Regions from separate parts of the Homo sapiens genome. Here region 2 is linked to region 1. A link means that fine-mapping ties the variant in region 1 to the expression of a gene that starts in the linked region. Tissue or cell type: whole blood. Region 1 holds a variant in brackets; the other region holds the start of a gene. All regions are shown on one strand. Distances are between the middles of the regions.

Region 1 (6,897 bases):
TGATGGACTTCCTTCGAGGAAAAGGAAAAGTTAAAGTGGACTATTATAGCTATTCCCAGCAGATAGCATCCCTCCCACGTCTCCTCATGTCTTCATCCTGGGGATTCAATGGACCACCATTCTGTCTTTTGCTACACATTCACAAAAAAATATTTACTGACTGCAGAGCAAAAGACACGATGGGTGTCTATTGTTTTCTTATCGTTGGATCATTCCAATACTTAGAATGTTGATAAAGCAAATATACTTCTTTGAAACAACCCTTTCCCCCATTATCAGCTAATAAAGCTACACCTTAAAACTTGAACAGTTGTCACAACGGATTACATTATCAAAGAGAGGTACCTAATGAAAAGAATGCATGATTATGCCGCCATAAAAAAAAATGAAATCATCATGTCCTTTGCAGCAACATGGATGCAACTAGAGGCCATTATCCTAAGCGAATTAATGCAGAACAGAAAGCCAAATAGCCATGTTCTCACTTCTAAGTGGGAGCTAAATACCGAGTACTCATGGACACAAAGATGGCAACAACAGAAACTGGGGACTATGAGATGGGGGAGGAATGGAGGGTAACAAAGTTTGGAAAACTAGCTACTGGGTTCTATGCTCACTGCCTGGTTGATGGGATGGATCATTTATATCCCAAACCTCAGCAACATGCAATTTACCTAGGTATGTAACAACCGTGTACATGTATCTCTGAATCTACAAGTAGAATTTATTAAAAAGAAAGAATACATGATGTTCCAAACCTGCCACACTAAACATTATTAGGGCAGGGCACGGTGGCTCACGCCTGTAATCCCAGCACTTTGGGAGGCTGAGGCGGATGGATCAACTGAGGTCAGGAATTCGAGATCAGCCTGGCCAACATAATGAAACCCCATTTCTACTAAAAATACAAAAAAATCGGCCGGGGAGCTGGCGGGCACCTGTAATCCCAGCTACTTGGGAGGCTGAGGCAGGAGAATTGCTTGAACCTGGGAGGCAGAGGTTGCAGTGAGTGGAGATCACACCACTGCACTCCAGCCGGGGTGACAGAGTGAGACTCTGTCTCAAAAATAAAAATAAAAATAAATGGAGGAGAAAAAGCTAATGGGAGAGCTAGATGGGCAGCATGCTGTGCTCCCAGAACTAAAACTGTCTCAATATCTTCAACTCAGCCTACTGAAGAAGACTTTCAGCAGCTATGCCTTATCCATTTCTTAGTGGAAACTGATTAAAGAACCAGATAAAGTCAACGTTGCTAAAGGGATGAATGTAGGCATTGATACATTTCACATGCGTTTTGCTACTCTAATATATGATTTAAAAACCAGTACTCCCCAAACTAGCTTCACCTTCCACCTGAAGACAGGGTGAATGAGCCACATTCTGTTAATACCTATGCTTTGTGACCTCCAATGTGTATGTAACCTGTGCCTGAATGTCACTTCCTTTCCTGCAAGACGGAAATCATATTACCTGCTCCACAAAGTCTGGAGCAGGTAATAACCTAAATAACCTTTTTAAAGTTTTGGTGGTATTCTTTGTGTGGTAATTAAATGATTTTTTTAAAGTTTATTTAACTACCACACAAAGAAAATAATGGTTAGTAATAAGCATTAAGTTATCTTTTTTTTTTCTTTTTGAGATGGAGTTTTGCTCTGTCACTCAGGCTAGAGTCCAGTGGCGTGATCTCAGCTCACTGCAACCTCCACCTCCTGGGTTCAAGCAATTCTCTGCCTCAGCCTCCTGAGTAGCTGGGACTACAAGTGCCCACACCATGCCCAGCTAATTTTTGTATTTTTAGTATAGACGGGGTTTCACCATCTTGACCAGGCTGGTCTTGAACTCCTGACCTCGGGATCCACCCGCCTCAGCCTCCCAAAGTGCTGGTATTACAGGCGTGAGCCACTGCACCTGGCCAAAGTTATCTTAAAGTTAGTAATAAGCATAAAGTTATCATAAAGTTAGTAATAAGCATAAAGGTATCTTAAACATTTGCTGATACTGTAACTAAAATAACAGGATAACTGAACTAACAGATAAGGTATCAGCACTAAAAAGAAACTTTCAAACAAATACATTTCTAGCTCTAAGTTATTAATTGATGTGCTAATTAGTAAATCATATTACACATTTATTTATCAATACAATACCTCTCTCAACTTTGAGACATCAACTAGTGGTTTTGATGTTTACCATAGTTATTATATATTTGAATTCACACTTGTACATCATTTATGCAAAACATCCTCACTTCAAAAGTGAATATATTTTAATATTTTCATTACTTGGTAATTATTCAATTGAATGCTTGACTGAACAAATATGAAACCGATTTTTAATTTCCACAAGATCTCTAATTTTAGTTGGAAGAAACTCTCATACTATTTCGCAAGGTGATTTAATCTTGCACCTACTTCTTAGGAATTGAAGTTTAATTTTAGAAAGCATTTGCTTCCCTTTCTTAATCATATTCCACTTTCATTCTTTACTCCACCCAAAGTTAACCCGGAAGTTTTCTCCCTGAACTCGTAGGATGCAAGCGGTTAAATATAATCATCACCCCCAAGTGAATAAATTAAATGACTGCCTAATATGTATAAAAATTTAGCAACACAAAGAAGAATAAATTCTAGTCCCCTAATAAGTTTTATTGTCTAATAATCTGATTGAGGCCAACTAGTATTCTCTAATTGCATCTGGCTGAA[T/C]AGGTAGACAGACACCTAAATTTTCACGCACAAAAAAGGATATTTTATATGTATTCCCTTGCAGTAAGTCTTCCCATATTCCAGAAATTTTTACCTTCCATGTTCCAGAAAAAAATAGAACTGATTATTGGCTCAAGACTTGAGTGACAGCACTGTAACCATCATATGTTGAAGTAACGCTTTGAAACTGGAATTTCAGAGTAAAATCTAATTTATTTAAGCCAAAATATATTCTCTAAAAATTTTCTCGTGTTTTAGCATCTATTTGAAATATTATTTTATTGAAGTTTTTCTTCTTTTAATACAATAAACCAATATAGAAAATGGAGATTTTCGCCAGGCGCAGTGGCTCACGCCTGTAATCCCAGCACTCTGGGAGGTTGAGGCAGGCCACATCACTTGAGTTCAGAAGTTCGAGACTGGCCTGGCCAATGTGGGGAAATCCCATCACTACAAAAAATTAAAAAATTAGCCAGGCATGGTGGTGCATGCTTGTAATCCCAGCCTCTTAGGAGGCTGAGGCACAAGAATGACTTGAGCCAGGAAGGCTGAGGTTGCAGTGAGCTGAGACTGCGCCACTGCACTCCAGCCTGGGCAACAGAGTGAGACCCTGTCTCAAAAACAAAAACAAACAAACAAACAAAAATGGAGAGTTTAGTTTTCTAAGCCAAATGCGAAAACCACTCAATGGCTTTAAAAGAGAAGTCTGACTGTCTGAAGAACACCGTATTATAATGGTATGGCCCATAGGAGATTTGATAAGATGTGACCAATATGATACTTCTCTCCTTTCCCACACCCACGGCAGACGTCACTAATCATTAATTGCACTCTTTCCTAAAAAAAAAAAAAAAAAATGGCACTGGGGTGGGATTGAGGGGTGGGGATTGAATTTATACCCAATAGAAGGCCTCAAGTGGCTACTAACGCCAGTTGGTACTGGTGAATAAGAAAAACTTTATATCATTTTTTTGTTTTCTCTAAATAGTTGCTCAATATGTAAACTTATTTTATATTCTGTTACTTTCATGTTATGACAATGTAGAAATAATTAGTTCACAGCATTTTCTATCCTCTAAAAAAATTAGAAAGCTGTTGTAGGTTTTATCATCCCCAACTCTGTTTTTCTATAAACTACTGTTGAGAAACCTCTAATGAATTTTTATGCTAGTATGGAATATCATAAGCTGTAACTGAGATAGTATTTTTAAGCCGATGTTATTAAATCAAAAACAGGAAAAGTGGGTGTTAATGTAGATGTTAAAATCACTGTCACAAGGACAGCAATATTGCAAATACCTCATGACTCAAGGTACAGTCATAAAAAATCTCTCCAACCCAAAATAATTTCAATCCACTTGTCAAACTTTACAAAGAGATGTTGGCTAATCCTCTCAAGGATGTTGACAAAGTCAATGCAACAGCAAGTATATAGTAACAATGCAAGTAGCATATTTAGTAAATCATGTTTAAGAGTAGCCACAACATCTGCTTTTGAATATAGTACCCAACACATCAGGGATACTCTGAGAACTGAAACTTTAAACAGAGACCTTTATTGTTTTGTGTGAGAATCCTGGCAGACAAATCCCTATCCCAGGAAGCTGGTATAACCTTACAATTCAGTAAATGGAAATCTAGCATAGATTTCAAAACAAGGTGAAATGAACTGTATTTGATGAAGTCTCCCAATTCTTCTCTTTGAGATCAACAGGTGAGATAATAAACGTCTTCGGGGCGTCTAGATGACTTAAATTTGGATTAATTCGACACAAACAGGCTTAACCCTACCTGGTAACCAGTTCAAATATCGGAAAGGACTGCGGTCACTCCACTGCCAACCGCTGTTGAAGCTCAGACTGTTAAGTCCAATCCAGAGTCCTGAGGTCAAGGAACTGGTTAATCCTATATTTTTAAAGAAAGCAAAACAAACAAACAAGAACTTGGCATTCAGAAAACAGTTGAAATTAAATTCAGAACTAAGTGCTTGAATCAAAATGTCACTGAGGGAAGTAACAATAATCATGCCTACCATGTCTCCTTTGATTCTCCTGACAACCTAAGGCAAGTAAAATTATTACCTTCACTGATAGGTGGGGAAACGGAGGCAGAGGCAGCATAGGTAATCTGGTAAGATTTTTAAAGTTCCAACCCAGATCTAATGAGGCTTCAAACCCCATCATCTTGACTATTATCTACTTTCTCAAGGATAGTGTAAAGTCTTCTTGTGTGAATATGAATAGGTGTTACCTCCACTGCATATTTCAAACCTTATTCTAAGAATTTTATTTTATCATTTTTTAAAGTCAATTTCTCTTCTTCGTTAACATGATGATTAAATACTAATCACTAAGTGCTTATGCTAACACCAAGGATGCTTTGCTTAAGCAGTGAAGAAATCAAAAATACAATGTTTCCAATTCTGTTCTAGGACTGATGTGGAAGTCATAAAACCAGAAACAACACGGACCTCAGCTCTTCAGCGGTAAACACTCTAACCTATTATTACCGCTCTTTTTTTTTTTTTTTTTTGAGTTGGAGTCTTGCACTGTCGCCCAGGCTGGAGTTCAGTGGCTCAATCTCCACTCACTGCAACCTCCTCCTCTCGGGTTCAAGCGATTCTCCTGCCTCAGCCTCTCGAGTAGCTGGGATTACAGGTGACCGCCACCACGCCTGGCTAATTTTTTTTTTTTGTATTTTTAGGAGGGATGACATTTCACTATGTTGGCCAGGCTGGTCTCAAACTCCTGACCTCAGGTGATCCGCCCACCTCAGACTCCCAATATGCTGGGATTACAGGCGTGAGCCACCATACCCTGCCACCTCTATCTTTTTTGAAACCATCAATGAGAATTCTCTGTTCTGAGTTATTTTAATTGATCAAAAGCAATTAATTAAAATAAAAACTATCCTTTGGCTTTTAAAAACATTTTTTAAATTTATTTTTATTTTTTAGAGATGGAGTCTCACTATGGTGCTCAGGTTGCTCTCCAACTCCTGGGTCCAAGCGTTCCTCCTACCTCAGTCTCCTAAATAGCTGGGACTACAGGGTACACACCACTGTACTCAACAACCTTCAAAAAAATTCTTTAAAAGAATTTTCACAAATTCTTTAAAGTTGTACTAACTTAAATATAATTATCTTTCTACTTGCACAGACGTATTCTACAGGACATGCTCCTAAAAGTAGCATTTTAATACTAGCTATTCCCAAAACCAATTTACTCAGGGATTTTAAAAAACTTAATTACGAAAATAAGTGTATTTAAGTTTTAAAAATTATAAATAATTCGCTGATTAAAGAAGAACTGAAGTAGATATTGAGACTGCGTAACTAAATTACTATGTTTGGCATCATGAGAAATGATAATAGCTCTTTAAGAGAATTACCTTTTGACATCTTTTACCAGCTCTAAGTACTTATAAACTTGTCTTGAAGAACTGAATTAGTTAATACTTTTTAAAACAAGGCCTGACATATGGTATATGCCCCATAAATATAAGTTACTACTGTTATTATTACCATTATTATTATTATTATCAATAGCTTCATATTAAGGTTGGCAAAGGTGTGACTTAGAAGCAAAATTCAAATCTTGGGTTAAAATATATCTCTTAAAGCAGATGGGTGTTGTCCACAAATAATTTTCTCTAATATGCTTTTGTAATTTTATAAAAGAGCAGACCAAAATATTTTAGTATTGCTGCACAAAGCAACAATTCCACATGCTAAATTTTTGTTGTTTGTTTTGTTTCCAGACACCAACTCAAACCAGAAATTTTTTTTGTACAGTTGGGGTCTTACTGTAGTGCCCAGGCTGATCTCGAACTCCTGAACTCTAACAATCCTCCCACCTCAGCCTCCCAAGGCTCTGGGGTTACAGGCGTGAGCCACTGCGCCCAGCCTCACATGCTCAAGGCGTAACTTTTCTGCATATATTGTCTGAAATGGTTATATACCAACTTTTGAACTTAGATGTAATAGAAGATACACAAATGTCCAATATTACACTGTTTTTTTTACTTTCTTTTTTTTTTTTTAATTGAGGTCCAATGTGTTTTTCAGGCAGTACCAAAGGAAACTGGTAAAAACCATCGGGGAAACAAGCCAAATTTCACTTCCTATATCTTATTTCAGTTCTGTAAATCCTCATCCTGCACATACGGAGCCACAAATCTGATTCAGGACTCAGAG
Region 2 (6,897 bases), 33 kb after region 1:
CTGAGTGCTAAAAAGATAGTGCGGCAAGAACAACAGTAGGAAAGGTGAGCGTCTAGCCCTGTTAACCTCTAGACTCCTGGACCCCTCCAGGGAGAACCAGCCCATCCGTTGGCAGCAGCCCACAGAGACTTATGGTGCTAATGCTGTGGGATGCTCTCCTGAAGGTGGAAGGAAGGGGTGTGGATTGAAAAGAAATAAACTGATGGCAAGTAGGGAGACCTTCCCATGGGTTTTCCTAGTGGGCAGGAAGCCAGGGGAGAGGTGTTGGGGCTTCGCATAGTTTAACCTGCTGCTAACTAAGCAGGTGCCCTGCCTTTACACAAATTCCTCCAATCACATGCTTCTCGGGCCAAGAAAAGATAAAATAAAAGTTACAGGCTGGGTGCAGTGGCTCACATCTATCATCCTGCACTATGGGAGGCCAAAGTGGGAGGATCACCAGAGCCCAGAAGTTTGAGATCGGCCTGAGCAAGATAGTGAGACCCCATCTCTACAAAAATAAAAAAAAATAAAAAAAATTAAAAATTAGCCTGGCATAGTGGCTCAAGCCCAAAGTCCCAGCTACTGGGGAGTTGGGAGTGGGCCAAGGTGGGAGGATTGCATGAGCCCAGATGTCAAGGCTGCAGTGAGCCATGATCACACCACTGCACTCCAGCCTGGGTGACAGAGTGAAACCAGTCTCAAAAAACAAAACAACACAAATTACAGGCTTTCACGTAGGAAAAAAAAATCTGGAAGGGGGGTCCCTTGAATTTTTTGTTTGTTTATTCTCCAAGTAAACAGATCTTCAGCATCCCCCTTCTCTCCCCAATATTTGTGCCTATGAAGAGGAAGACATTAGTCAGAGGAGGGCATCCTGCTGTCAGGAAGAGGGAAACACTCCTGAGCAAACCGAGAAACACTATTGCTCAAAGCATTATTGAGTCAGTTTAAAGAAAATTAGGCACTGTGTCTGTGCTGCCCAGTATGATAGCCAGTCACCTCATGTAACCATTGTACACTTAAAATGACACTACTGTGAATTGAGACATGCTATAAGTATGCAATACTCACCAGATTTTGAAGAGTTAGTTTTAAGAAATGAATGGGAAAATATTCCAAATCGATTAAATGTTGAGGGATAATATTTCCGAGTTACTGGGTGAAATAAAATACATTAATAATATCAGGGCTGGGCGCTGTGGCTCATGCCTATAATCCCAGCACTTTGGGAGGCTGAGGAGGGCAGATCACTTGAGGTCAGGAGTTCGAGGCCAGCCTGGCCAACATGGTGAAACGTTGTCTCTACTAAAACTACAAAAATCAGCTGGGCATGGTGGTGCATGCCTGTAATCCCAGCTACTTGGGAGGCCGAGGCAGGAGAATCACTCGAACCCAGGAAGTAGAGGTTGCAGTGAGCCAAGATCATGCCACTGCACTGCAGCCTGGGCAACAAAATGAGAATCTGTCTCAAAAATAAAAATAAAATTAATTTCATCTATCCTTTTTATTTGGCCTTTTATGTACTTCTTTTCTGCCACTGATTTTAATAGCTAACACTTATAAGGCACTTACTATGGGTCATACTCTGTTCTAAACATTTCACATATTGTTACTCATTGAATCATCACAAGAACTGATGGGGGCAGGTAATATTATTCTTTCCATTTTATAGACATGGAAACTAAAGCACAAAGAAATAAAGTAGCCTGCCCAAGGTCGCAAAGCTAGTGAGTGAGAGAGACAGGATGTAAACCATACCGCCTTCACTTGTGTTTTTGTAATCACTACCACTCAATACTTATGATTTAACATTTGCGGTACTAAAACACTCTCTTCCTAGGAAACTTCCCACCCGCCTTCACATCAGTGCATAGAGTAGATCGTAGGCACAAACCATTCTCTGCAAGTGTTTGTTGATTTCATAGAATTAAAGGGGGATCAGAAATCAAAAAATCAAATTTGAAATCTCTTCTAAATCATCTCCAAATAGAACCAGGAATGAAAATCCCCCGAGGCACTCCCATCCTGAAGTTTAAGCAACTGAGTATAGAGAAATAGAAAAGACAGACTGGAAAAGGTATTTGAGAATTTGAACAACTCTGGAGCTGTTCCTAATGAGTAATCTCTAATCTCCAGAAAAAGAAGAAAAACAGGAATCGATCTGCTTATGCGGCAGTTTGAATAGTCTAGAATACAGATAAGGATGAACTTTCTAACAATCAAGTGTCTGAATGATTCTGGCAGAAAAAAAAATGAGTATGGAAATTGCTTAGAATCTCTTTTGGGGGGATGATCTGCGATGATACCCTCGGACCTAAGACGCGGGGAGACATCAGGGCTGCCCTCCTTCCAGCCAGAGACACTCAGAAGGTGTTTGTTGGCGGTGAGACAGAAATAGTGTGAATTGAAAACCAGAAAGAGTAAACCACAGAGCAGGAAATTTCTGCACGAAGAAAACAGGGAAGGAACAACGAGCGATGAGAGAAGTCAGGAGGACACTGAAGGTCTGTAGGGTTCCCGGCAGGGCAGCAACCGAGACCTGAGACGCATCCTCCTCCCTCCTCCAACTCCAGGCCTCCCATGCCTGGCCGCCAGGTGAAGGCAGCAGGCTTAGCCGTGGACTGCGTGGTGCAGGGGAACCCCGTTTCCTCCTCACAAAGATGTTGAAAGGAACCCATTCACAGTAACCCAGAAGAGGAAGGTGTGGTTCCGGCCCCCCAGGTCAGAGATCCCCTGCCTCAGAGCAGACTTACCCAGTAGGAGAACAGCACCCGGAATGACAGAGGCAAAAACCAGGAGCAGGGGTAGCCTCATGGCCCAGGGTTTATCCTTTCCTTCTCCTGATGGACAGGAGGGCGGAACTAAGACGCAAAACAACGAGGCCCCCCAACTGCCTCTCCACCTAATCCAAGTTCCCAGAGCTGCCCAGCTGAAAAGAACTACAGAGGAAGCCCTCCCTTTTAAAGGGCTCCTGAATTTAGGGAAAGCCTCTACTGAGGAGACATCCTGTCACATGAGGGTGGCTGGAAAAACAGGAATTCAAAGTAACAACTTTGCTTCGTAAGCTAACTTCTGAGAAGAGCAGACGCAGAGGAAGGGGAGAAAGGGACACGTGTGGGAGAGGAGTGGCGGGGTGGGGAGGAGAGAGGGCGATGGTGATGGTGAGGAGTCAGGAAGGAGAGAAGTGAAACAGCCTGGGAGCTCCCGGCCTGCTCAGATGGGGCTGGGTGGAGATCAAGCTGCAGGCCATTACCTGTGCCGGAAGACGGAGCTTCCCCTGGGAAGCAGCTGAGTCAGGGGTCCCTCAGCAGACAACCTCCACTCTGAAGTGACAGCCACACGGGCCCTGGAAAGGACAGTTTTACGCTGGAAACACTTCAGAGTTGAAGCTCATCCCCTTCAGTTTCCACATTCAGTGCTTAGAGCCTTTCTTTTTTTTCTTGGAAAGTTTCAACAGAAAGTTCCGTGGAGCTTCATTTCCTCCAGGCAGAAGAAAAGTGAAAAGGAGGCTACACCTAAGAGGGAATGTCAGTCAGGCCAGGAAGGAGAAAGTTCTAGAAACCTTTTGCTAGAACGTTCTCTAGAAAGCCAGAAAAAACAGTGGTAAAGGATTTGCAGTAAAGCCTTGCTGCCCAGCCTCAACCATCCCGGTCCTCTTCAAGTTTAAGTGGGTCCCCTTGCTAGAAAAAGAAAATCTGGCCAGGCACAATGGCTCACGCCTGCAATCCCAGCAGTTTGGGAGGCCGAGGCAGTCAGATCACCCGAGGTCAGGAGTTTGAAACCAGCCTGGTCAACATGGCAAAAACCCGTCTCTACTAAAAATACAAAAGTTAGCCGGGTGTGATCATGCACACCTGTAAGCCCAGCTACTCAGGAGGCTGAGGCAACAGAATCGTTTGAACCTGGGAAGTGGAAGTTACAGTGAGTCAGGATCGCACCACTACACTCCAGCCTGGGCGACAGACGCGAAACTCCATCTCAAAAAAAAAAAAGAAAAGAAAAAAAAGAAAAAGAAAATCTGATTGTTTGGTCAAAAGGTATATCTTTATTTAAAGGCAAGTGGAATTCTTTCTTAGAATAAAATATGTTTCTAGATCTTTCATTAAGCAGAAAATAACCCTCCAAACATTTATGTTGTCATTTTTCAAAAGTAGAACAGGAATTTAGAACATTTTAAAGCAGAAACTAACGATTAGCTGGCCAAACCGTTACTAGAGTGTGGAATATGTTAGTAATTCAAAAAGAAGCTACTGGAAACATTGTAATTTTTAAAATTTTTTAAATGAATAGTTTTATCTTCAAACGGAAAGCCTCCACATTCGTTGTCTTTGTGATAAAGTTGAAAAGTTTCCATCCTATTAGAAATGTGATGTAGTTCTCTTACTGATTGTTTTTAACATGTAAATTTGAGATTATCCTGACCGGAGGGAAAAAGATAGTGAAAATGTAGGACAGAGGACCAAAGTTTCTTTGTCACTAAGGCTGTACATGACTGAAAAAAAAAATGATGGTTATAGAACAGAACAGACAAAACAAAAATGTTTCTCAGACATTGTTTCACTGGCTTATGAAAATAATAGTTTAAATGGGTCATTTGTGGCTTTCAAATATAAATAAATCATATACAAAAGTGACTGCCTAATTTACATTTATATATATTTCAGAAGCAAATACATTTAATTGAATTATGTATATAATCACATTCAGGGTTGGTTTGTTTCTTTGAGACAGAGTCTTGCTCTGTCGCCCAGGCTGGAGTGCAGTGGTGCAATCTGGGCTCACTGCAACCTCCACCTCCCGGGTTCAAGCGATTCTCCTACCTCAGCCTCCCAAGTGGCTGGGATTACAGGCGCGTGCCATGATGCCCAGCTATTTTTTGCATTTTTAGTATAGACGGGGTTTCACCATGTTGGCCAGGCTGGTCTCAAACCCCTGACCTCAAGTGATCCGCCCGCCTTGGCCTCTGAAAGTGCTGGGATTACAGACGTGTGCCACCATACCTGGCCCAGGGTTTGTTTTTTAATTACATAAGTGTGTATATCACATTAGTAAAATTAAAAATTAGGATCAGTACTAAAATCTGTGAAGTTTAAACAAAATGCAGCCAACCACCCCACAAAGAATTTACCCCATGACCTTGACCTCGTTGAAACAAAGATTTATCAGGCTACAAGAGGCCACTGGGGCAAAAAATAAATCCAAATCTTGGGGAAGGGATGTCACAGAAGATGGTGGTGTGGGAAACTCCAGGAATTCATCCCTCCATCTAAGCAGCCATCAAATGGACAGGAACTGACTGAAGTAACTGCAGGTGCTCCTCTACTCATGATCAAATTAGGCCCTGTTAAACCCAATGTGAGTTGAAATATGCTAAGTCAAAAATGCACTTAATACACCTGACCTACCAAACATCACGGCTCAGCGTAGCCTACCTTAAACGTGTTGAGAACACTTACATTAGCTTCCAACTGGGCAAAATTGATAGGGACAGGAGGCAGAGAAGTGCTAGGTAGAGAAGGGCAGGATCCCTGGCGAGGGCTCCACCCTCGGACCTGTGCCCACGGACCTAAGTGGGAACAGGCACTCCTGTTTTCATGCGCAAATGTTACATTTCCAAGACCACTATGATTCACCACACCCCGCATCCTGTGCCCATAAAAACCTGAGACCTTAATGGGCATAGACACAAGCGCTAAACATTGAGAAGAGTGAAGGAATAGAGCAGTGGAGAGCAGTGGGGTGGCGCAGCAGAGAAAGAGAGAAGAAGGACATCTGGACACCAAGGGGAGTTTGGCCAGCAGTGGTTGGAGAATAGTCTGGGGGGTTAGGCAGCCTGGCTCCAGGGGAAGACCACCTTCCCACTCCACTCCCCACTTCCAGTTCCCCATCCATCTCGCTGAGAGCCACCTACACCACTCAATAAAACCTTGCACTCAACCCTCCAGCCCACATGTGATCTGATTCTTCCAGTACACTGGGCAAGAACTCAGGCTGTCACACTGCCTCCCTGTCCTTGTGATAAGGCAGAGGGTCTATTGAGCTGACTAACACAAGCTGTCTGCAGATGGTATAGCTGAAAGAGCACACTGTAACACACGCCCACTTGGGCTTCAGGAGTCCTAGATGCTGCCGTGGGGTGGAGCCCAAAAGCACTCCCCACAGCCTCTGCACCTGCCCATCTGCATGCTGCATGCTCCCCCCTAGGGGTTTGAGCAGCAGGGCACCAAAGGAGCAAGCCTCATTCCTGTCGCACCCCCTGCGAGGGTCATAAGGGAACTCTTCTATTTCAAAATCATCTAACAAAACCTATTTTATAATACAGTGTTGAGTATCTCGTAATTTATTGGATATGGTACTAAAAGTGAGAAGCAGAATGGGTGTATGGGTATTCGAAATACATTTTCTACTGAATGCACCATTTCTATTTCACATCATCATAAAGTGGGTAAATCATTATGTCTAACAATCCTAAGTCAAGGACCATCTGTATTTGGGAACTAGTCTAGTCAGAAACTTGGAGCATCCAAGGGAGAGCTTGATAAAGAGGCTGGTACATTTCAGCGAATTTCAGCTTCTCCCTGTGGTTATGGCTGTGTCAGGCAGCTGTGAAGGGGGAAGCAGCCCACACGCCCAGTGCAGCTAGGTGAGGCCAGGCCGGGCAACAAGGATTTAGCCCTCCAAATGTCAGGACTGTGTGTTCTGATTGGTGCTTTTATTTGCTTTCATCACTTCTCTTCAACTTAGTACTGGAAGTTCTAATAAGAGCATGTAGGAAAGAAAAAAATAAATAAAAGCATCCAAATTAAAAAGGAAGAAGTGAAATTATCTCTGTACACAGATGGCCTGATTTTAAATGTAGGAAGTCCTAAAGCTTACACACACACACACACACACACACCACACACAAATACCACA

Evidence for each region. PIP is the estimated chance that this variant, and not a neighbour inherited with it, causes the effect. A credible set is the group of variants that fine-mapping cannot tell apart.
Region 2: it holds the start of MRC1, and the variant in region 1 is the best candidate, but not a certain one, in a credible set for the expression of MRC1 in whole blood (INTERVAL, PIP 0.56).

Annotation. Positions count from the first base shown.
Region 1 is chr10:17,838,403-17,845,299 of GRCh38, reverse strand. MRC1 (mannose receptor C-type 1) reads right to left here. Exons shown (of 30, transcript NM_002438.4): 5 at 4,494-4,607; 6 at 1-11. It overlaps MIR511 (microRNA 511), which reads right to left and starts at 193; the gene lies at 107-193. The variant T/C (reference allele first, on the strand shown) is at 2,703.
Region 2 is chr10:17,805,365-17,812,261 of GRCh38, reverse strand. MRC1 (mannose receptor C-type 1) reads right to left here and starts at 2,914. Exons shown (of 30, transcript NM_002438.4): 1 at 2,736-2,914. The coding sequence starts at 2,796.